Homo sapiens: one gene and its partners. The protein of the gene in region 1 interacts with the protein of each later gene in a biochemical or structural test. Each region holds a gene or a part of one and is shown in the gene's direction. Other genes may lie near its edges.

Region 1 (3,500 bases):
AGTGATGGTGAGGATGTGGAGAAATTAGAACCCTCGTGCATTGCTGGTGGAAATGTAACATGGGTGTAACCACTGTGGAAAACAATTTGGTGATTCATCACAAAGTTAAACAGAATTATCATGTGATTCAATTCCACTTATATACCACAAATATTCAGAAGTAGGGACTTAAACAGATATATGTATACCAGTGTTCACAGCAGCATGATTCAAGATGGCCAAAAGGTTGAAATAACCAGTGTCCATTCATAAATGAATGCATGAACAAAATATGGTATATATACACAACGGAATATTATTCAGCCTTAAAAAGGAAAGGAATTCTGACATATGCTACAACATAGATGAACCTTGAAGACATTTTGCTAAGTGAAATAACCAGACACAAAAGGACAAATACTGTTTGATTCCACTTATATGAGGTACCTAGAACAGGCAAATTTACAGAGACAGAAGAGAGATTAGAAAATATAAAAAATTAACCAGGCATGCCCACGCCTATGGTCCCAGCTACTCGGGAGGCTGAGGTGGGAGGATCGCTTGAGCCCAGAGTTCAAGGCTGCAGTAAGCTGTGATCACACCACTGCACTCCAGCCTGGGCAACAGAGCGAGACCCTGTCTCAAAAAAAAAAAAAAAAAAAAAGATTAGCAGAGACTGAAAGGACTGGGAAATGGGGAGTTACTGTTTAATGGGTACACACTTTCTGTTTGGAAAGATTAAGAGTTGTGGATGTGGATGTGGTGGCGGCTACACAACATTGTGAATGTACTTAAAGGCAGGGAATTAATACATTGAAAAATAGTACATTTCATGTTATGTGTATTTTATCACAATTTTAAAACATAAAAAAAAAAATCACAATGGTTGCAGGGTAGAGAAGGAATTGAAGTAGCTGTCGGAACTGGTTCTGAGATTCTCACAGCAATCCAGGAATGAGGTGGTGTTGGCTTGAACTAGGATGGTAAGTGTAGACATCTTTGAGAAGTAGAAAGATTTTGGTGACAGGACTTAGTTATAGATTAGAAGGCAGGGAGAGGAAATGTCAAGGATGCCTCCCAGATTGATGGCTTTCAGACTTGGATAGATGGTGGACTCATTTCCTGTGAAAGGAAACTTCAAACCAGCTTGGGAGAAGATCATACATGCAGTACAGGATATTTTGAGTTTAAAGTTCGTTCAAGATGTTCAAGTGGAGAATTTGGATAGAGAGATCTGAAACTCAGAGCGGTTCATAAGGAATATGTAAACTTTAGAGGTAATGGCGTATAGATGATCACTGAAATCATGGACGTGAAAGAAATCACCTTAAGGAGAAAGTATAGAGTGAAGAGAAGAGGATTGTTGGGCCATGCCAGCATTTAGAGCTACAAAGATTAAGGTGTGTTAAAAAGAGTGGCCCGGCCAGGCGTGGTGGCCCACACCTGTAATCCCAGCACTTTGGGAGGCTGAGGCTGGTGGATCACTGGAGTTCAGGAGTTGGAGACCAGCCTGGCCAACACCGGGAAACCTCAAAAATACAAAAATTAGCTGGGCGTGGTGGTGGGCACCTGTAGTCCCATAGTCCCAGCTACTTGAGAGGCTGTGGCAGGAAAATTGCTTGAACCTGGGAGGCAGATGCTGCAGTGAGCTGAGATCATGTTACTGCACTCCAGCCTGGGCAACAGAGTGAGGCCCTGTCTCAAAAACAAAAAACAGAAAGAGTGGCCCTGGAAGAAAGAAGATCAAAAGAGCTTTCCAAGAAGAATTAAGAGGTTTACAGGATCTGATTTCTGCCTTTATGGATTTACCGATTCTGGAAGTTTCATATAAATGGGAATCATACAATATGTGTGAAATTTTATGTCTGGATTTTTCATTTTGCATAATGTTTTTGAGGTTTATCCATGTTTTTGTTGTTGTGGTTGTTGTTTTTTGAGATGGAGTCTTCGCTCTGTCGCGCAGGCTGGAGTGCAGTGGCGCGATCTCAGCTCACTGCAAGCTCCGCCTGCCGGGTTCACGCCATTCTCCTGCCTCAGCCTCGCGAGTAGCTGGGACTACAGGCGCGCGCCACCGCGCCCGGCTAATTTTTTGTATTTTTAGTGGAGACGAGGTTTCACCGTGGTCTCGATCTCCTGACCTCGTGATCCGCCCGCCTCGGCCTCCCAGAGTGTTGGGAGTACAGGCATGAGCCACGGCGCCTGGCCTATCCATGTTGTAGCATGTATCAGTACTTCATTTTTTTTGTGACTGAATAATATTCCGCTGTGTAGATATATTTCACATTTTGTTCACCATTTATCCGTTGATGGACACTTGGTTTGTTTCCACCTTTTGGCTATTGTTAACAGTGCTGCTATGTACATTCCTGTCTAAGTCTTTGTTTGGAAACCTGTTTTCCAATTCTTTGAAATATCTAGGAATGGAATTGCTGAGTTTTATGATAATTCAAAGTTTACCTTCTAGAGGAACCCCAGCAACCGTATTGTTTTACATTCTTATCAGCAGTGTTTGAGGGGTCCAGTTTCTCCATGTCCTCACCAACACTTATTTTTTATTATTTCCTGATTATTATTATTATTGCCATACTAGTGGGTGTGAAATTGTATTTAGTTGTGGTTTTGAATTCCATTTCTTTAATGACTCATGATGTTGAGTATCTTTTCATGTGCTTATTGGCGATTTACATATTTTCTTTGGAGAGATGTCTGTTCAAGCCCCTTTGCCTATTTTTTTAATTGGGTGGTTTGTCTTTTTGTTGTTGAGCTGTAAGAATTCTTTATATATCTGGTTACTAGACCCTCATCAGATATATGATTTGTAAATATTCTATTCTGTAGATTGTCATTTTATTTTCTTCATAGTGTCCTTTGATACACAAACGTTTTAAATTTTGATGAAGCCCAATTTATCTCTGTTTTCTTTTGTTGCTTGTGCTCTTGCTGTCATAGCTAAAATTTTATCACCAAATCCAAAGTCATGAAGATCTCCCCCATATTTTCTTCTAAGAGTTTTATAGTTTTCGCTTGTACATTTATATTTTATATCCTCTAAATTTTGTTTATAATTTAAATCATTGCTATAGACTTGGTCCAGTGAGACCTATAAACAGAGGTCTTAATTTACTCAGTGGTTAAATTGTCCTAAAATTGATTTCTGCAAAATTCAGAGGGGAGATTTTTGGGATTTCATAGAGAAATCTATATCCATACAGTTAAATCCTTCATGATTTCATACACTTCACTTTTTTAAAGTATTAAAACTTTTTTATTTGAAGAATACGTGGGGAGAAGAGAAATATATTTCAGCACTTAGATATGTAGATTATTTCCAAAATAGTTTACCACTCAACTAGTCACTTCTGTGTAAATCAGTTTTCCCTGAAGCAAGCATTGTGTTGTTCCCGGCTACAAGCGGTCCTCATTTTGCATGGTACTGTGGGACCATAAAAATGGCCATGCAAAGCAATCTTAATAATCAATGGGGAAAATGATGATTGTTCCATGACCTTTAAAATTCTGCT
Region 2 (3,500 bases), about 150 Mb from region 1:
CAGACTTCTTGTAAGATTTCAAGTTGTGTAAAGAGAAAGCTCCTAGCTAGTGTCCTGCTGAACACTAGCTTATTTCCAGACTGAATTCAGATCCTTCTTCTCGTTGTTTCTGCATTCCCACTAGAATTTTAGGTGACTCAGGCAGGGAGGTTATAGCTCCTTAAAGTTTTAGGAGGCTAAGCTGTCTAGAAACACAGTAGAACTTTAATCCCCCCGAAAAGTTGATGTTGTATTCTGATGGAATTTCGGTTGATGGAAAGCGTACACAATGTGTTTATTTCTAGCACCAGAGCCAATGGAACTTGATGGCCCTAAAGGAACTGGATATATCAAGACTGAGTTGATTTCTGTGTCTGAAGTGTAAGTGAACACAGAAGAGTGACATGTTTACAAACCTCAAGCCAGCCTTGCTCCTGGCTGGGGCCTGTTGAAGATGCTTGTATTTTACTTTTCCATTGTAATTGCTATCGCCATCACAGCTGAACTTGTTGAGATCCCCGTGTTACTGCCTATCAGCATTTTACTACTTTAAAAAAAAAAAAAAAGCCAAAAACCAAATTTGTATTTAAGGTATATAAATTTTCCCAAAACTGATACCCTTTGAAAAAGTATAAATAAAATGAGCAAAAGTTGATCAGAGTGGGAAAGTAGTTCTTTTCAATCTAGAAAAGGCCAAAGTAATGATTGAGATACACTGTCTCCACTTGCTTTGATTTTGTTGTTTCATTTTATAAAAGGTAGAAAAAATTTTGGAAATGTCATTGTCAGTTATTTGGCCTGCAGCACTGTCTTGGGGTGAATGGATGTAGCCTTCATGTAAAAACACTGTGTGGAGCAGCTTTATCTGCATTCAAACCTCAAGGTAGGGATGAGGGACTCCCCAGACATTTCTCTGGTGCTTTTCTGTCCAGGGTAAGCCACGAGGCATTGTCATCTCAGGGTAGTGCACCGCACATGCTCACACCTAGGCTTACCCAGGCAGAAGCGGCACAGATTCCAGTCTGGCTATTGCTTATCACATCCCTGGAGTGTGAAACATTTCCCAAGGGGCTGGGCTGGGGACATGAGCCTCCCATGAGCTGTACTTTTGCAAATGTATTTTACAAGTGTATGCACTTACCCAAAATAAAAATATAACGTGATAATTCAATTACAGACAAAAGATAAAGTGTGTAAGTATGCACTAGTGCTTTCATCACTCAGATGTTGACATTGCTCTTTTCTTTTTCCCCATTTTAGTCACCCTTCTAGACTTCAGACCACAGACAACCTGCTCCCCATGTCTCCTGAGGAGTTTGACGAGGTGTCTCGGATAGTGGGCTCTGTAGAATTCGACAGTATGGTGAGTACCACGGCTGGCCTGTGTGTAGCTCTCAATAAGTGTGTGTGCTCAGAGGCAGGGAGCGCACCATGGCAGATCCCGGGCCTGTCTGCGGGAGGGAGCCCTGGCGGAGCCAAGGAGAGTGCAGTGCTCAGATGAGCCATGACAAGTTGGAGCTGCTGGATTTAAACCACCTACATCATCAGTGGGATTTTTATTCCTCGCATTCAGCACCTTCCAAAAAACAAGTGACATTTCTAATATTCAGGTTTCCTCCTCTCCCCTTTAAAGTTGTCCATGTAGAAATTTCATATATTAAGGAACTAAGATTTCTTTGATAAGCAAATGTTTTTCTTCGGAATGCGATTTCATCACTGTGTCTAGGGGAGGGAGTGTTATTTTTAGAAAGGGAGGGACTAACGCTTGGTAGTTACAGTAATTAGAGAGAATTATACTTTAGCAGCAATGAGATTACTTCATCTGCCTTATATTTGAGAGCTAATTTGTACAAGTAGCTCCTGGGGCTGTGAAGGGCTTGCCAAGAGTAAAAGGTTCAAGGAGTGAAATAGTTAATGAGATTCGTGATAGAAATGGGAATATGATTGTCCACAAAAGGGAACATCTTCCTTTTGGAGGGTGCTTTTTTAGTATATCAACTAGTATTGTTTGCCTTTCAGCCTAAAATCCTTCCTCTTAAAGATTGTGCTTGCTTGGCTGGATTTTTGCTGATGCTGTTTAATTTTAAGCTCTTTTCCACATGGAGCTATTCCAGCTCATTTTTAAAAATTTATTTAATGCTTCCAAAAAATATCCTGAGTTATTACTGGCCTTTCTTCCTTACTGTATACCCGGTGCCTGGCAAAAAGTAGGTGCTCAACAAAGAGAGGAAGGCAGGGAGGGGAAAGGTGAGCGAGAATGAGAGGGCGTCACTCTTCAGACATTTGGGGAATGCGATGATAAGGCCTCAGTAAGATCTGCCTGGATTCAGGTTTCTCATGTGTAATTTTTTGACTTTTTTCCTCACCTTAAGCACGGGCTACAATCATTAGAGATTGTACCTTCCTACACTTTCCTGATTGTTGTTGACGAAATAGGCCATTTAGAAAAACAGTTAGCTATTGTGGCAGCGAAATAGTTTCATTCCTATTGGCAAGTGTAAAATGAACCTTTTCTGCATGTAAGAAGGATCCTGCTAGAGTTTCGCTCCCAACACTGCTATAGGCCTGGCACAAAAATGGAATAAATATAAAGCCCTATTCAGAAAATATGTTACATCACAGGAACTGTAAAATGGGGGGATTTTTTATACCTCCTTTGTTGTTCCTGAGCAAATTACATCATCATCACCACCACCATTAATAGGTGACATTAAGCACCTACAGTATACCATGTACTTCACAGGTAGTAACTCATTCAGTCCTCACAGCCACCTTCTGAGTTAGGTGTTATTGTTATTCCTACTTTGACAGATGTGGGAACAGAGCCCCTCCTCCCCACACAGCCCCTTTTATGTAACTTGACTAAGATCAAGCAGTTAGTAAATGGTAGAAAGAATATTTGAATCTACCTAGTGAGTCTCTAGTGCATGCTTTTGTCCGGTATCCTGGAAAGCCTCCCACAAAAAGCTAATCTTTGCCCCATTCAAAACATGCACCCTGAAGAAGCTGTTTGTACAGGATTGGGTTTATTCTGTTATTAAGACAAAGGCATCATGGCCTTTGGGTGAGAGGCCCGTATGTGTTTGGGATTTGGCAATCAGCATTCCATCTCTGTCATCACCATTATTGAGAAAATAGATGGATTGGTTCCCTCTCTGCAGTCCTGTGGAGCAGTTGGACTGCTCTCTCTGCTCTCAGGATGATACTGTGAGAACAATTTAAATATGCTAAGCACATGTCAGGAAACAGTTTTGTGGTCTTTGGACACTCGCTGTAGCCATTCCGTTCCATTTCAGGTGATTTTATTCATTTCATTTGTAGAATAAAATAAATCCATTTCACACACACACACACACACACACACACACACACACACCCTCTATACACCACTAAAGCCTCCCATTAAACCCATAGAAGACTTAAAGAGCTAAAAGAGGCTATAATATAAAAAAAAAAAAAGAAAAGAAAAGAAAAAGAGTTCATAATATAGGCACGGCACTGGTTAGACAACGGTTGAATCA
Region 3 (3,500 bases), on another chromosome or scaffold:
GGCAGGAGAATCGCTTGAACCTGGGAGACGGAGGTTGCAGTGAGCAAGATCATGCCACTGCACTGCAGCCTGGGTGACAAGAGCGAAAATCTGTCTCAAAAAAAAAAAAAAAAAAAAAGTGGATGCAGTGTAAATGTTCCCATTGTCGTATCAGAAGAGATCAGACTATGGTAGCCCAGAGAAGGGAGTGGAAAGGCAGCCTTTAAACTTGGAATTTGATAGGGAAATATTGTCCTTGGGCTGAGATTTAGGACCCTGTAAGCAGAGGGTGTGGTATAAGCAGGGGCCTGGGGATGAATATGAGGTAGACACAGGGAGGCCTGAGTAGCCCGATTTGACCAGAGGTTTGTCGAGTGGGAGATGATGAAGAAGAAGCAGACTGCAGGATCGAAAACCTTGGTTGGTAAAAGATCAGCTGGACTTGGACTTTAGGTATCTTTGGGCTTTTTTTTTTTTTTGAGATGGAGTCTCACTCTTGTCGTGCAGGCTGGAGTGTAGCAGTGCAATCTCGGCTGACTGCAACCTCCGTCTCCTGGGTTCAAGCGATTCTCCTGCCTCAGCCTCCTGAGTAGCTGGGACTACAGGTGCCCGCCACCACACCCAACTAATTTTTTTTGTATTTTTAGTAGAGACGGGGTTTTGCCATGTTAGCCAGGCTGGTCTTGAACGCCTGACCTCGTGATCCACCTGCCTCGGCCTCCCAAAGTGCAGGGATTACAGGTGTGAGCCACTGTGCCCGGTGGTTTTGCTGTTTTCTGATTACTTCTTTGTGTTCCTAAATTATGTGAGGAGCAGAGTTAAAATGATCTGGAGGCAGGGTAAGGTGGTATATACCATTTATATAAGGAGGATAGGGAATGATTATATATATTTATTTGTTTATTCAGGGAAGATTTTTGGAGAGACACAGAAGAAACTAGTAACATTGATTTCCTCTGGGGAAGGAAACTTAAGTTTTTATCTGGTTATGCATAGGTAGTAAATTCCCATTACAGGGGTGCTACTGAAAATAATTAACTGGCACAGCACTGGCACTGATCAGTCAGAAGAGACACCAATCAATATGCCACACATGTACATACTAGCTGAATATCTGCTGTGTTCTCATGGTTCAAAAATTGAAGCCAGATAAAAAGCATAGATTGAGGCTGGGCTTGGTGGCCGATGCCTGTAATCCCAGCACTTTGGGAGGCTGAGGCGGGCAGATCACCTGAGGTCAGGAGTTCAAGACCAGTCTGGCCAAAAGAATGAAACCGCATGTCTACCAAAAAATATAAAAATTAGCCAGGTATGGTGGCAGACACCTGTAGTCCCAGCTACTTGGGAGGCTGAGGCAGGAGAATTGCATGAACCCCAGAGGCAGAGGTCGCAGTGAGCCAAGATCACGCCACTGCAGTCCACCCTGGGCCACAGAGTGAGACCCTATATGAGAAACAAAAGAAAAAAAAAAGTATAGATTGAAACATTTCCCATTCCTTAGGCAGGGAGACTTCTTACTCGTTACCCATTTGAATCTCTCAAATTTTGAATGTTTTACCTATTCAAAAAAGCAAGTAAGTTTAATAGAAACGAAGGAAGGAAGGAAATTCCATTGTTGAGAAAGCTATTATTGTGGAAGGGGCAGTGAAACTGAATTTTAGATCCTGTGATTCTATAAGGAAGGGCTGGATACGTGTGAGTGGAAGGACAGATGGAGCCAGGGGGAGTGCTGGGGCTTCCTCAAGGCCTTCAAGGTTTCTTTTATGACCAATGTAGTCCAGGCTTGGTGGATTTTCCAGTCTACCCATTCTTCTTTAAAATCCAGGCTCAGCCTGGCCGAGTCTGTGGTGGTTTAATGTTCTCTCTGATTCCAATTTATCATCCTTAAACATGAAATTAAAGTGTAATAACTGAACTTACACCTTCTGAGCACATTCTGTGAGCATTCATTAGTATGTAATCTTTATACTGGCAGCATATATTTATTGGAATTGTTTTTTTTGCCTTCATCTCACTCTTAATGGATTCAGATTTTTAAAGATCCCCCTCCTCCATTATTAAAGTAATTAATACCATTGTCTAGAAGTTGGAAAATATAGACAAGTACAGAAAAGAGCAGGAAAATCACCAGTAACTCACAATAAAAAGCAACCACCATTACTATTATCAAGATTCAAGTGGTTGTGTGGGTTGGTAGTTTCCATTTCCTGGGGCTTTGGTTAGAGTTGGGCATGGGTCTGGGCTGGGACATTGTTGCTGGCAGAAGAGAAGGGCCTAGACAAGGTTTGTAAGTTGTGTGCACCTTAGTAGCTTTGCTGGTGGTGTTGATGCCTATGCAAGCATTGAGTATGATAGGAAGAAGGCACATTTGATCTTATTTCAAATGAAGGATGATTCATTGTTTTTTAAGGGCTTGGGAGATGGTGGGATTTAGTTTATTAAGACACTGAGACCTGGGTTAGGGAGTGGGCAGTCTTGAAAAATAAGTTTTATATAGCCCACTCTAGATAGATTTGTGGGATTTACCAAGGGGATCAGAATGATGACTTTTTTGTTTGTTTGTTTGTTTGAGATGGAGTCTTGCCCTGTCAACCAGGCTAGGGTACAGTGGTGCAATCTCGGCTCACTGCAACCTCCACCTCCTGGGTTCAAGCAATTCTTCTGCCTCAGCCTCCTGAATAGCTGGGACTACAGGCACACACCTCCATGCTCGGCTAATTTTTGTATTTTTGGTAGAGACTGGATTTCACCATGTTAGCCAGGCTGGTCTCGAACTCCTGACCTCAGGTAATCCACCTGACTCAGCTTCCCAAAGTGCTGGAATTACAGGCGTGAGCCACCACGCCCAGCCTATACATTTTAAAAGTCATCACTCTGGTCTGGCCAGCCTGGCCAACATGGTGAAACCCTGTCTCTACTAAAAATATATTAAAAAATTAGCTAGGTGTGGTTGTGCATGCCTGCAATCCTGGCTACTCAGGATGCAGAGGAAGGAGAATCACTTGAACTGGGGAGGTGGAGGTTGCAGTGAGCCGAGATTGCGCCACTGCACTCCAGCCTGGGTGACAGAGCGAGAATCTGTCTCAAAAAAAAAAGAAAAAAAATTATCACACTTCAGTCCCAGATGTTATGGGCACAGATACTGCTGCCCTCCTACTTGTTTAAAAGAAGTGCCGGTTGCCAGTGGGCCTTGGTCCCTTGGAAGTGAGTGCCGGGGTGACGCTCAGTTGCCAGACCCCATCCCATGGAGAGGGCCATAGTGTCTCCCAGATGTAAGAAGACCTTTTGTGTGTTTCTCCTTAGGGAGGAATGGGAGCTGCCCTGCTGTCAGACCCTGACAAGATTGAGAAGGTAAGTCCTCCACGAGTGAAAGCAGGGGTCCTCAAACACAGCTCCAAACTAGAATTGTCTAGAACGCCTCCTTCCACCAATACCAGATTTACTGATGTCCACCCAGTTTCTCTCCCTGAGGCCTAGCGATTTCCAAAAAATTTTCCAGTGATTTTGACATGCAGCTAAGT
Region 4 (3,500 bases), on another chromosome or scaffold:
CTCCTATAATCTGTTTCTCCTATAATCTTATTGTTATATGTATCTTTGTATATCTGTGTGTATATTCGTTTTGTGTATATCTAGGTTAACTCCGTGTATATGTGCATATAAACATAGACTACTTTAAATAACTTTCATGTTTTTATAAAAACAATGCATACTCATTATGAATAATTCCACTTCAAACAATTGCAAAAGATACAAAGAAGAAAGTAAAATATCACCTAAATCCTACACCAAGAGAGAAATACTGTTAATATGTTGGTGATGTTTTAAAATACCAGTATGCACATATGGATTACACGTGTGGGGTTTTTAAAATTTTTTTATTTATTTTTATTTATTTATTTATTTATTTATTTATTTATTTTGAGATGAAGTCTTGCTCTGTCACCCAGGCTGGAGTGCAGTGGCACGATCTCGGCTCACTGCAACCTCCGCCTCCTGGGTTCAAGCGATTCTTCTGCCTCAGCCTCCCAAGTAGCTGGGACTACAGGCGCGTGCCACCGCGCCTGGCCAATTTTTGTGTTTTTATTAGAGACGGGGTTTCACTATGTTGCCCAGGCTGGTCTTGAACTCCTGGCCTCAAACAATGATCTTACCGTATGGTATGTACAATTGCCTTTTTTGTTTGTTTGTTTTTTGTTTTTTTTTTTTTTTGAGATGGAGTCTCCCTCTTTTGCCCAAGCTGGAGTGAAATGGCGCAATCTCAGCTCACTGCAACCTCTGCCCCACCAGGTTCAAGCAATTCTCCTGCTTCCACCTGCTGAATAGCTGGGATTACAGGTGCCCACCACCATACCCGGCTAATGTTGTTTTTTTGTTTTTTTGAGATGGAGTTTTGCTGTCGCCTAGACTGGAGTGCAGTGGTGCAACCTTGACTCACTGCAACCTCCACCCTCTGGGTTCAAGCAATTCTCTTGACTCAGCCTCCTGAGTAGCTGGGACTACCGGCACCTGCCACCACGCCCAGTTAATTTTTGCATTTTTAATAGAGACAGGGTTTCAACATATTGCTCAGGCTGGTCTTGAATTCCTGACCTCAGGTGATCCACCCACCTCAGCCTCCCAAAGTTCTGGGATTACAGACATGAGCCACCGTGCCCTGCCTAATTTTTGTATTACTAGCGATGGGGTTTCGGCATGTTGGCCAGGCAGATCTCTAACTCCTGATCTCAGGTGATTCACCCGCTTCTGCCTCCCAAAGTGCTAGGATTACAGACATGAGCCACCGCACCTGGCCATACAATTGCCTTCTATATGTTTTTTATTTAATATGACATTTGTATTTCCCCATGTTATTAAAAAATTCTTTATAAGCATTTTTAGTGACTGCATCGTACTACATTTAATATTCGTCTAATGCTGAACATTTAATCTCCCCACCCCCCACTTTTTGGTGTTACAGATAACACTACAGTGAACATCTCTGTAGAACACTTTATTACATTTCAGGTTATTTTCTGAGAACAGACTCTATATCCCTCATTTTATTGGATGCGCATTAAATGGTTCTAGACTTACTTACACTTTCACTTCTGATGCTTCTGTTCAGTATCTCAAAGAATGACCGTTCTCTCTTAACAACCATTATACCTCTTTTCTGATGTTAAAAATCTACATTCATTACAGAAAAGTTGGAAAATAGTAGGCCGGGTGCTCACGCCTGTAATTCCAGCACTTTGGGAGGCTGAGGCGGGTGGATCACCTGAGGTCAGGAGTTTGAGACCAGCCTGACCAACATGGAGAAACCCCATCTCTACTAAAAATACAAAATTAGCTGGGCATGGTGGCGTATGCCTGTAATCCCATCTACTTCGGAGACTGAAGCAGGAGAATCGCTTGAACCCCAGAGGCAGAGGTTGCAGTGAGTCAAGATCGTGCCATTGCACTCCAGCCTGGGCAACAAGAGCAAAACTCCATCTCAAAAAGAAAAAAAAGAAAGGAAAAGTCGGAAAATAGTGAAACACACTCTACTCTCTGTGCTTTTGATCTTTTTTCCATGCTGTCACCTATGCGTTTGTTGTTGTTCTATAAAATTGAGGACATAAGAAGCAGATTGATGTGTAACTTGTTTTTTTCTTTTTTTTTCTTTTTTTTTTTTTTTGAGACAGAATTTCACTCTTTTCGCTCAGAGTGGAGTGCAATGGCGCAATCTCAGCTTACTGCAGCCTCCGCCCACCTGTTCAAGCAGTTCTCCTGCCTCAGCCTCCTGAGTAGCTGGGATTACAGGCATGCACTACCACACCCAGCTAATTTTGTATTTTTTTAGTAGAGACTGAGTTTCACCATGTTGGCCAGGCTGGTCTCAGAACTCCTGAGTCAGATTATCTGCCTGCCTCAACCTCCCAAAGTGCTGGGATTACAGGCACAAGCCATTGCGCCTGGCCTGTAACTTGCTTTTTTTACACTCAACACCACAAACAGAATATTTTCTCATATTATAAAATATTCTACAACATGTACATTACTTTTTTGATGACTTGCTGAAACAAAATCAACAAGCAGAGAAACTGAAATTCCCTATACTAGAAAAACCATTGTGGGAAAGGCCAGCAAATTTCTTCTGGCTTGCCCAAAATCCTCAAAACTTCCCCAGTTGAAGTGATACAGGTATGGAAGAGCATCTGAGACATATCATCTGTGAGTCCTGCTGAGCCCCATCAGTCCTCCACCACTGGTGGGGGCTTCTGGGCCCCACATTTTTAAAGCAGTAGTTGCTAGGTTGACACCATTTCAGCCACATGGACTTGTTAGTGAGTCGTGGCATCCGCTTTATGAGGCAGCAGCGCAGCCTAGAGTCAACATCAAGCCATATGTTGATGCACAAGAGGCTCGCATGTATGCCTATACCAGGCTCTGATTCACTGAATTCATTGGCCAGAATCAGGGATGTTTTCTGAAGGCGTAAGTAAGAGCTATAGCCTTCAGGTCTTCTTGCCACACTGGCAGCCTGGCATAGCAAAGAGAGCACAGGCTTTAGGGTCACAGACCTGGCTTCACTCACTGGCTGGGTCACCTTGGGCAAGCCACTTCACTCATCTGAGCCTCAGTTTTTCTGAATAATGTGGCAAAGTGATACCTACCTCATTGGGGTAGTTCTGAGGACCAAAGGAGAAAATATATGTAGAAAACACATCACTAATTTTTTTTTTTTTGAGGTGGAGTTTCGCTCTTGTCGCCCAGGCTGGAGTGCAGTGGCGCAATCTCGGCTCGCTGCAACCTCCGCCTCCTGGGTTGAAGTGATTCTCCTACCTCAGCCTCCCAAGTAGCTGGGATTACAGGCACACGCCACCATGCCCAGCTAATTTTTGAATTTTTAGGAGAGACAGGGTTTCACCATGTTGGCCAGGATGGCCTCAATCTCTTGACCTCGTGATCCGCCTGCCTTGGCCTCCTGAAGTGCTAGGATTACAGATGTGAGCAAAACGCATAACTAAATGTTAATGGTCCTCTTTTCTCTCTACTCAGCCTATAATATGCAATGTAGCCTAAAAGGC
Region 5 (3,332 bases), on another chromosome or scaffold:
GGTATCCTAATGTGTTAATAGCTGAAACTCAGCTGTAATTTCTCCTAAATACTTCAGCATTTTGCATTCTGTACATTGTGGTGCTTTTTCCACCTTGTATTGTTGTAACTGTAAGCTCCTAGGGGGCAGCAATTTGGTCTTAGGCGTGTACCCTGTTTAGTGCCTGGCAATGCCATGTTTATATCAAGGTCTTAATATTACTTTTGAGTTATTTCTCCCACTCTTCATGGAAGTGATGCTCCAGCCTTGCTAAAACACTGAGGGTCCTCCCGATAAGCCAGGCATTGTGATTCCTTGGCTTCAAGTGCCTTCTGTCTTCCCCGAAGGTCCACTGAGATCTACAATCCCCCCTTTCCTCTGATCTCTTGCCATGTAAGTAATTTTTTAAAAGATCAGTACAAGAGCTATATTTTTTCCTAAGAAAAAATTTCAACAGGAATGGGGAGTAGCCCCGTTTTGGGGCTGATCTGTCCAGAATTTGGAGTGAGGAACAAATCCATTCTCATCTACTTTCCACATTTTCCCTCTTGTTTGAGGTCCTGTTCCAACCTTCATTTCTGAAACTGTTCTAGAGCACTTTGTCTTTCTCGTAGTTCATAACTTACCCCTTCAGTCTAGAATTAGAATTACATTATCTGTTTTACTACTTTACTAGACTGTAAGCTCCTAGAAGATAAGGACTAGGGAGTTCATCTCTGTATTCCACCAGAAGGTACAGTGACTCATAACTAGAGTCTTTAGATGAAACTTACTGAGTTGAATAACTTAATATATTTCTGTTTTCATTCCCAAGGGAGGCCATGTCTGGAGATAGACCTTGAATTTAATAAATTTTAGGCACTATACCATTTCAGTGGAGAAAATTGTTGGGAAATTTGGGGGGATGGATATATAAGGGGGAGGAAGTCACTGGCCAGTTTGAGGTGCTTCCATTGGTCTGGGTAACTAGCCATTTCTTCCTGATTGTGCCTAGTATATCCCAGACAGTTTGTTTCTATGCAGAAGAATTTTATATGAAATTTTCATTTCTTTGCAAAAACTTGTTCCTTCTTTCAGTTCATGACATCATCCATGCTAAAGTCTGAGTCATCTGCTTCCATTTTTGTTATTCCCCACATCCAGTCTTCAGCTAAGTCCTGTCAGTTCTACCTCAAGTCTTTCCCGTCTTTCTTCCTCACCTATGTAATTTCAGTAGTCTCTCAGCTTCACTTAACCTCTTACTCCAGCCTACTTTATACACAATGTTAGATTCATCTTACTGAAACATAGTTCTGACCATGTATTCCATGTATGTGTTCTCTCTCCCCTATTAGACTGTAAGCTCCTTATGGGCAGGATCTGTGTCTGAGTCATCTTTGTATCTTGCCTAGCACCTATCAATAAATACTTCTTGAATGAACAAATGAATTCTCATTTCTCGACATAAAGCCTTGTCTAAAGTGAGATGTTTTCCAGGTCATACATAGGTTTCTCCCTGGGGTAATTGGAAGTTCTTGCATATAAAGTTGGTTAAATAGTAATAATTATGAGTTAACCACAGAAAATTTCAGAAAACTTTAATTTTTTTCCATTGGAATCAGCATGGATATGTGTATATGGATGGTTCAATAAATATACTTTTATATACATGTTTCACAGAAATTTTACATTCCATCTTCAAACTGCAGAAATAGATTTTTTTTTTTTACAAGCCAAAAAATAACTGCCATAACTTTTGTGACTTCATGCAAAAAAAGGGGGGAAGAGTAAGGGGCAAAAGGGAATTAGTTGTTCAAGGTTGAGTGTCCAGTAAGAAGTAAAAATGTTACATTAAGGAAGCGATTGCTTAACACGCTGCTTAAGGTGGTAGCCAGACAAATCCTTAACTGCAGCATTAAGGCCATACCAAGTTTATACATATATACAAAGAAATTTCCATATAAAAGACATACTATCACATTTTCTTCTTCATAAGGATGAGGAACTTTGTAATTCTGACCTGATTTTCCAGGCCAATTAATTAAAATGTCCCCAGGCTGCTTTTTAGAAGTATCTTCTACTTTGGCTAGCTGTCAGAGTTGCCGCTATGTGAGCTTGTGACTTCTGGTCTGGCGTGAAAGTATGAATCATCTTGAACCTCTTCCATCATAGCACTATGTTGCTGAGCTAATTCATGCTGCCCAGCTAAGCACATTTTCTACATCCCCAAAGTATTTGGAATCACAGCATTGTAACTTGTGATTGTCTTACCTGTAACAGACTCCACAGTCATGCTGGCATTGTGACCTGAAGAATTACACAGTGCCCTTCTTAGATTCTTTGGGGTTAAGGTAACTTCTTGAATAATGTACTAATGAACGATAGTGTTTCAGGAAACATGCCCTAGCTATTGGAAGTTCGTATCTAACTTTTACCCCTTGTGTGTCATGATACATTTAAGTTGGTAGCTACATTTTTGGAATAAAGGAAATGTAAAATTATTTGCAGAATAATAACCTGGGATTTGCTCTTCTGCCTAAACATCGAACTAGGGAACTTTAAAGACAAAGGGTGCATCTTTTGTGCAAGTATCTAAGCGGGCAAAATGGGGAAAACATGAAGGGCAAGTCCTTTGGGGATGACTTCTAATTAATGCAGAAGTCATTTGCTTTGGCCAGGTTGGGTGGGACTCTGAGATTGCACACTCTTGCCCTGTTGGCAGAAACTAGCCCATCTTAAGTTAGTCAATGAATCCTGAGTCAAAATGAAAGGTTGCTAAATCTAAGATCGAGTGTATAAATAAAATAACCCCTTCCTCCAGTGACTGTGCATTTATTTTGTAATAAACTCATTTTGGAATGTTTTAGCAATGAATTGGTATCTCTCTGTTGTCCTGTTCATCGCCAGTTTTCAAGTATGGCTCCAGTGTGTTCACAGCTATGGCTGCAAGGTAATTTGGTCTCTTTCTATAGCTTCCCTAGGCCAGTCAAGTTTGAGAATAAGGTCTCCGTAAGTGGCCTGTCCTGGGAGAGAGGACCAAGTGATTTGTGATTTGGAAGCACTGTGGTATGTTTGAACACTTGCCAAGTTAACAGTCACTGAGTATTCTAATCATGCACCAGCCACTCTTCACCCTAAATGTACTACAAGTTATTCATTGCAGTAACTTGCATCAATTCTAGATAAGGTGATTTTTATTCAACAGGTCTACTGTGATGCTGATCTAGACAATGAGAGTGGAATAGCCTTTGGCAGTCTTGGAATATCAAGAGGGCTTAAAAGTATTAGGTTTTTGTTTTGGTCATTTTGTGTTTCACTTTGTCCATTTCAAGTCCAAAGCAGTTGAAGACATGTTTTATCCAGTTTGTCAGATG
Region 6 (3,500 bases), on another chromosome or scaffold:
GTAGGAGCCAGATTATTAAGGGCTTCCTAGGTTATCCTAAGGAGTTTGGGTTCTATAGTGTAACTGATAAACTGGTGAAAGACCTTTAAGTAAGAGAATGTTCTAGCCTTGGCAAGATGGTAGAATAGGAAGCCCTGGAACACAGCAATTCAACAATAATTTATAGGCAATTTTTCTTTGTGAGAAATCCAGAAACCAGTTAAGAGGCTCCTGTATGCCGGGTGAGCATGAAACCAGCCAGATCTTAATTGGCAGGGAAATTTAAGATACCCTCATGCCATAATCCCTCCTCACAGTGCAGGGCCATACAATCAGGACAACCACCCTCCACCCCCAGCTCCCAGCTTCTTTCTGCCTAGAAGGGGAAAGATGTATACCACGCATCCAATGCCTTAGCTTTTCTGGGGCTACCCAGAGGACTGGCTTCTGTCTGGCCAGTCTCAGAGTGCTGACAGGACATGGCATATTTTAGCAACCCCGGGGCCAATGAAGAAAGAGGTGGCTGGTGGTGGTGGTCACTGTAACCATCCCCTGCTCAGCCCAGCACAAAGCTAACTGTTGAAAAGCTTCAGCTTTCAGCTTTTTCCTGGAGAGGCAAAGAGGAGCACCATGTATCCAATGACCCAACTTATCTGGGAGTTGCCTGAAGAATTGGCTTCAGTCTTGCTTGTCTCAGAGCTCTGATGGGACTGAGACAAGCAAGGGACTGATGCCTGGGGACTGCCAAGAACAAAGAAAGTGGATTAGACTAGCATAAAAGTTTGAGAGGCCTCCAGAATCTCTGTCCAGGCTGATTGGTTAGGATCTTCTCCAGTATGAGGCCAGTTTGTGCAGACACAAACACAGAGAATCAAGGAAAAATGAAGAAACAGGAAAACATTTCCTAAATAAAGGAATGAGATAAAGCTCCAGAAACTGACCCTAATGAAATGGAGATATGTGATTTACCTGACAGAGAATTCAAAGTAATCCTTACAAACATTCCCACTGAGGTCTGGTGAACAATGCATGAAAAAAAGTGAGAATTTCAACAAAAAGAAAACTTTAAAAAGTAGCAAGCAGAAAGCATGGAGCTAAAAAATACCATAAACTGAAAAAGTTACCAGAGGGATTCAATAGCAGACAATGTCAAGCAGAAGAAAAGGTCATCAATCTCAAAGACAGGTCATTGGAAATGACTGAGTCAGAGGAGAGTTGGGCTAGCCTCCAGCATTTCCCAAAGTGTTAGCTGTTTTATTCATGCTATGTTAAAGGCTTGGACAAAAAGTAAACTCAGGAATCCTGAGTTAAACCAAGTCGAATAGATTTTTGTTCTTTGAGTTTTCTGATTCTTCACTATGCTAATGTGTATTTTTAATTTCACAAAAGGCATTTGTATTATGTAATTTGCATTATTTTCAGTTTTTATTTATGGAACCATTTTATTTGGGGACCATGTTATAGAACACATTTTGGGAAATGGACACTGAGAATACTAGCAGCAGAGAAACATTGAAAGCTTGAATCAGAAGGTTAGCATCAGGAGAGGAAGGGGCAAGAACAGGAAATTAAGTTGTGTCTCTCAGAGCACATTCTTTATGAGTGGTGACTTACCAATAATTTTAAAAGATAATATCATTTGAGAGTTATTGATACCTGATCAAAAGATAAGAATAAGCAGTTTGAAATGTGGTTTGAAACTTCTCTGAGACAAATGATAGTCAAAGGAAAGTGCTTCTCTAATATGGTTTAAGCTCCATCAACTAATGACATAGCCCCCACTCCTCTTGATTTCAGAACCTGTCCATGGCCTGGCTTGAATTAATGCACTAGATAATCCCTACAATGGTCATATTCTTGAGATGTTTGAGCAACACGATAACTACTTGCTTATGAGTAAATCAGAGATGGTTGCCAGGAGTCTAGGTTGGGTCATGAGCAGCCACATGGTAGTATGAGCAAAGCAAGTTAGAGACAGTGCTAGTTTTGAGATGATACCCATTTGCTTTTTTATGTGTTCGTGAGTTAGAGTTGTCTGTGGGACATCCTTGTGGAGGTGAGAGGATCACTAGGCTGTTGAATACATGCGTTTGTACCTCCAAAGAAATTTGGACTGATTCAGCCTTTATTTTACCTGATGTGCCTCAATTGCTGTATGTGTTGGGGTTTCATGCCTCTTTTATGAGATATAAAATATTAAATTGCAGGGTGAAGACACTGCACATTCCTGATTTTCTGCCCCATTATACTTCCACACATTCAGTTTCCCTTGTCCCTTTATAGCTTCACTACTACACATAAGTCCCATTGAAACCACTTTTTTTGGATGTTTTTAAACCTCTAATTTTAGGAAAATTGAAATAGACATTATTCACCTTTCAATAGAAGCTGCAACTGCCTCTACAGTATGACAAAGATACTTGTTTGGCAGTGTTTCTCATTTCTTTGTTACTACACCAAGTAAAGCCATTGAGTTAATAATGCTATGTTTCTATTTCGGTTATTTTAAGTGTAATAACAGTGTTCTTCATTTTATTTATAGCTCCAAAAGGAATTCTTCATTTGTCTCCTGATGTTTATCAAGAGATGGAAGCCAGCCGCCACAAAGTAATCTCTGGCACTACTCTAGGCTATTTGTCACCCAAAGATATGAACCAACCTTCAAGCTCTTTCTTCAGTATATCTCCCACATCGAATAGTTCAGCTACAATTGCCAGGGAACTCCTTATGAATGGAACATCTTCTACAGCTGAAGCCATAGGTTTAAAAGGAAGTTCTCCTACTCCCCCTTGTTCTCCAGTACAACCTTCAAAACAACTGGAATATTTAGCAAGGATTCAAGGCTTTCAGGTATGAATTAAAAGCAAAAACAAAAAACAAAACAATTCATTAGCCTCAGATTCTTCATCTGTATACATCACAAGGCTCATTCTTGCCTGCTAGTATGGCCTACATGCCACTTACGTTTTAAGTTATTTAGGAACACAAAGGACAGACAAAAAAGCCATATGCACATGCCTCATTTTCTCTTATTTTTGATCTATCTAGTAATTCTTTTGCTGCCTGTCTCTTCTCCATTTTCCTTCTTCTTTTTTAAGCATTTTTCATATTCTTCACTGTCTTCTATTTGGTCTTGATTAGGTGCATCTATCTCTTCGCTCTGTCTTCCACAAACAAAAATTCTGCCTTCAGACATTTGGTGTTAGTATTTCACACTCAGTTCTCCCTTTTTTTACATAAGGATTGAGTTTCTTTTTATGATGATTTTACCTTTATAGCAATTTTGAATTTTGCATTCTATTGCTAGTATTGATTCAGGTACACCATTAAGATACAACATTCTAGAAGTCTATTACCTTAGGAGTTAATTAAACATGATATTTGAAGAATAATGAAATGCTTTATAGTTGTTTGAGGCATAACAATGTGTATTTGTTTTACTGGATCATGTTTTGAACTGACTAGGGAGGGTAGCACCTGCCTCAGATAGTACCAACAATTCTGTTTCACTGGGTAGTCTA
Region 7 (2,865 bases), on another chromosome or scaffold:
CAGAGTGTTGGGGCGCAAGGAGCTCAGGTATGGAGTGGGGTAGGCACGGGGGCCAGGAGCCCTGGAGGCAGGGAAAGGCCATGATGTTGGACCTCTGGGAAGAGGATATTGCTGTGCTAAAGGTTTGGGATGGGGGCCTGAGCCTTTTGATTTATGTAGCCGAAGCCCGAAAGGTGGGTAGTGAGCCTAAAACAGAAGGGGGCGGGGACAAAGAGGGAGATGGCAAGATCAGTAATAGTATCTCTGGGGCAGGTCGCTACTAAACTGGAGAACAAAACTTCGGCGATATGTGGCCAAGAAGCTGAAAGAACAAGCAAAGGCACTGGACATCAGGTGAGGAGAGAACGCAGCGAGGCAGGTGTGGACTGGGTGTCCAGGGGAAAAGTCTGGGAAAATAACCCAACTCTTGGGACTGTTTTGCCAGCCTCAGCTCTGGAGAGGAAGATGAAGGTGATGAGGAGGACTCAACAGCTGGAACCACAAAGCAGCCCTCTAAGGAGGAGGAGGAAGAGGAGGAGGAGGAACAACTGAACCAGACCTTGGCAGAAATGAAGGCCCAGGAGGTGGCGGAATTGAAGAGGTGAAAGGAGCTGGGGTAGAGCTTGGAGTTCCCCAACGCAGGGACTGTGTGAAGATGGGAGAAGAAAATGCAAGGCATGGATAGAAACTTTGGAGCTGGGCCGGTTTTACTCCCTCAATCCACCCCCTCAGGAAGAAAAAGAAGCTGTTGCGTGAGCAGAGAAAGCAGCGGGAGCGTGTGGAGCTGAAGATGGATCTGCCTGGGGTTTCCATTGCAGACGAGGGGGAGACTGGCATGTTCTCCTTGAGCACCATCCGGGGTCACCAGGTGAGGCGGCATTGGGGGTGCAGGTTTAGGAGACAGAAGGATCTGTTTGGGTGTTTGGAGGTGGGGGGTGTTGAATGTCTTTTTAGGTTGCCGAACGATAGGCTGTGGTTGCTGTCTTCACCACAGGGTGCCTTGGTGAGTATAAGGCCACAAAGAAACATAAACCAAAAAGGATGAGTTAGGTAGATAGATGAGTGTGATAGATTTATTTTTTTTTTTTTTGAGACGGAGTCTTGCTCTGTTGCCCAGGCTGGAGTGCAGTGGCACGATCTCGGCCCACTGCAAGCTCCACCTTCCAGGTTCACACCATTCTCCTGCCTCAGCCTCCCGAGTAGCTGGGACAACAGGCGCCTACCACCACGCCTGGCTAATTTTTTGTATTTTTAGTAGAGACGGGGTTTCACCGTGTTAGCCAGGATGGTCTCGACCTCCTGACCTCGTGATCTGCCCACCTCGGCCTCCCAAAGTGCTGGGATTACAGGCGTGAGCCACCGCGCCCGGCTGATAGATTTATTCTTGAAGAACTAGAACATCAGAAAAGAACTTAGGTTATAGTAGATGCTGCCAGGTTACTTGAGTTTCAAGCACAGATGAATAGAGGATCTCCCTCAGAGGGGAGCAGCATTCTTTAGTTCATTGAGACCAAGTGAGCACTCGCATTAGGGTACTTCCACTGAATACTGAAGAACATGTTTTTCCTGACAAAATCAGGGTCACAAACAAAATGAACTTTTGTGGCTTATGTGTGGGAGTGTCATAATCAGGTCATCTTTGTTGTACAGGAGGGCAGTAGAGCATGGTGGCCCTAGAGCAGACACAGGCTCAGGTTTCCTTCCCAGCTCTACCACCTGGAGCTTTGTGAAGTGACTGAGCTGACTACCACTTATCCTTGCTGCCTCAGTTTCCTCATCTGTAAAACAATAATAGAACCTACCTACTAGAGTTTTTGGTGAGGAATAAAAAAAGATAGGTGTAATCCCTCATATGTGATAAACACTCAAGAAATAGTAGTTGGAGTTTTTCCTTTGAGACAAGATCTTGTTTTGTCACCCAGGCTGGAGTTCAGTGGTGCCATCATGACTCACTGCAGCCTCAAACTCCTGGCATCAAGCAATCCTCCTGCCTCAGCCTCCCAAAATGCTGAGATTACAGGTGTGAGCCACCATACCCAGCCTAGTATCTTTACCATGAGGAAAATAAAAGGTTCTGACAATTGGTTTAAGTGGAACAGTTTTGTTGGATGTATGTTGGCTGGGCCCCTTTTATTCAGTGGAAACAAACTGTGTAGACGGTATTCTCAGGAGATGATTGAGATGCTGTCTGAGAATAATTTTTAAAGGAAAACCAGTGTTGTAGAATATGTTAAGATTTGGTGCTATGTGGGCTGTAGGTACCTTCCTTAAGACCTATTTGTGATACCACTGAGACAAGACAGCTGAGTGGGATAGATCAGTAACCCAGCCTAGAACGGGATGTTGTAAACAGGCCATTCACTACCCTGGATCTGAGCTTTCCCATCTGTGAAAGGATAATGGATTTGCCAGTGTTCTTTCTAGTGTTGCTGAGCATAGACTGAGGTGAGGGACACAGAAAAAAAAACAGTATATTTCCTTTTAAATAGTTTACCTTTGTTTCTGTTACACTTCAGTTATTAGAGGAAGTAACACAAGGGGATATGAGTGCAGCAGACACATTTCTGTCCGATCTGCCAAGGGATGATATCTATGTGTCAGATGTTGAGGACGACGGTGATGACACATCTCTGGATAGTGACCTGGATCCAGAGGAGCTGGCAGGAGTCAGGGGACATCAGGGTCTAAGGGACCAAAAGCGGTAAGGGGCACGTGTGCACCAAAGGGAATGCTGCCACTCTGAGGAAGTGTTAGGGTGGGTACTACCAGAGCCTGAGTAGGGCAGCAAGGGCTCCAGGCAATCTGGGTCTCTGAGCCCCCTACTTTCCTTTGGGTCTACAGTATGCGACTTACTGAAGTGCAAGATGATAAAGAGGAGGAGGAGGA

What was found.
Region 2: the proteins of EIF2AK2 (region 1) and STAT1 form a complex in vitro, tested with the Homo sapiens proteins (one study listed by BioGRID).
Region 3: the proteins of EIF2AK2 (region 1) and DUS2 form a complex in vitro, tested with the Homo sapiens proteins (one study listed by BioGRID).
Region 4: the proteins of EIF2AK2 (region 1) and ZNF346 form a complex in vitro, tested with the Homo sapiens proteins (one study listed by BioGRID).
Region 5: the proteins of EIF2AK2 (region 1) and G3BP1 form a complex in vitro, tested with the Homo sapiens proteins (one study listed by BioGRID).
Region 6: the proteins of EIF2AK2 (region 1) and STAU2 form a complex in vitro, tested with the Homo sapiens proteins (one study listed by BioGRID).
Region 7: the proteins of EIF2AK2 (region 1) and FTSJ3 form a complex in vitro, tested with the Homo sapiens proteins (one study listed by BioGRID).

What each region holds. Positions count from the first base shown.
Region 1 is NC_000002.12:37,150,481-37,153,980, reverse strand, and holds part of EIF2AK2 (interferon-induced, double-stranded RNA-activated protein kinase), read left to right. Parts: intron 1-3,500.
Region 2 is NC_000002.12:190,972,672-190,976,171, reverse strand, and holds part of STAT1 (signal transducer and activator of transcription 1-alpha/beta), read left to right. Parts: intron 1-260; coding exon of another isoform or gene 261-284; coding exon 285-360; coding exon of another isoform or gene 361-364; exon of another isoform or gene 365-634; intron 635-1,239; coding exon 1,240-1,342; intron 1,343-3,500. UniProt on the Homo sapiens protein: Signal transducer and transcription activator that mediates cellular responses to interferons (IFNs), cytokine KITLG/SCF and other cytokines and other growth factors.
Region 3 is NC_000016.10:68,057,784-68,061,283, forward strand, and holds part of DUS2 (tRNA-dihydrouridine(20) synthase [NAD(P)+]-like), read left to right. Parts: intron 1-3,282; coding exon 3,283-3,330; intron 3,331-3,500. UniProt on the Homo sapiens protein: Catalyzes the NADPH-dependent synthesis of dihydrouridine, a modified base found in the D-loop of most tRNAs. Specifically modifies U20 in cytoplasmic tRNAs. Activity depends on the presence of guanosine at position 19 in the tRNA substrate.
Region 4 is NC_000005.10:177,046,696-177,050,195, forward strand, and holds part of ZNF346 (zinc finger protein 346), read left to right. Parts: intron 1-3,500.
Region 5 is NC_000005.10:151,809,954-151,813,285, forward strand, and holds the end of G3BP1 (ras GTPase-activating protein-binding protein 1), read left to right. Parts: 3' UTR 1-2,832; downstream 2,833-3,332. UniProt on the Homo sapiens protein: Protein involved in various processes, such as stress granule formation and innate immunity. Plays an essential role in stress granule formation.
Region 6 is NC_000008.11:73,551,341-73,554,840, reverse strand, and holds part of STAU2 (double-stranded RNA-binding protein Staufen homolog 2), read left to right. Parts: intron 1-2,521; coding exon 2,522-2,829; coding exon of another isoform or gene 2,830-2,835; exon of another isoform or gene 2,836-3,500. UniProt on the Homo sapiens protein: RNA-binding protein required for the microtubule-dependent transport of neuronal RNA from the cell body to the dendrite.
Region 7 is NC_000017.11:63,821,799-63,824,663, reverse strand, and holds part of FTSJ3 (pre-rRNA 2'-O-ribose RNA methyltransferase FTSJ3), read left to right. Parts: coding exon 1-27; intron 28-252; coding exon 253-333; intron 334-424; coding exon 425-580; intron 581-711; coding exon 712-847; intron 848-1,901; coding exon of another isoform or gene 1,902-1,991; exon of another isoform or gene 1,992-2,075; intron 2,076-2,495; coding exon 2,496-2,680; intron 2,681-2,820; coding exon 2,821-2,865.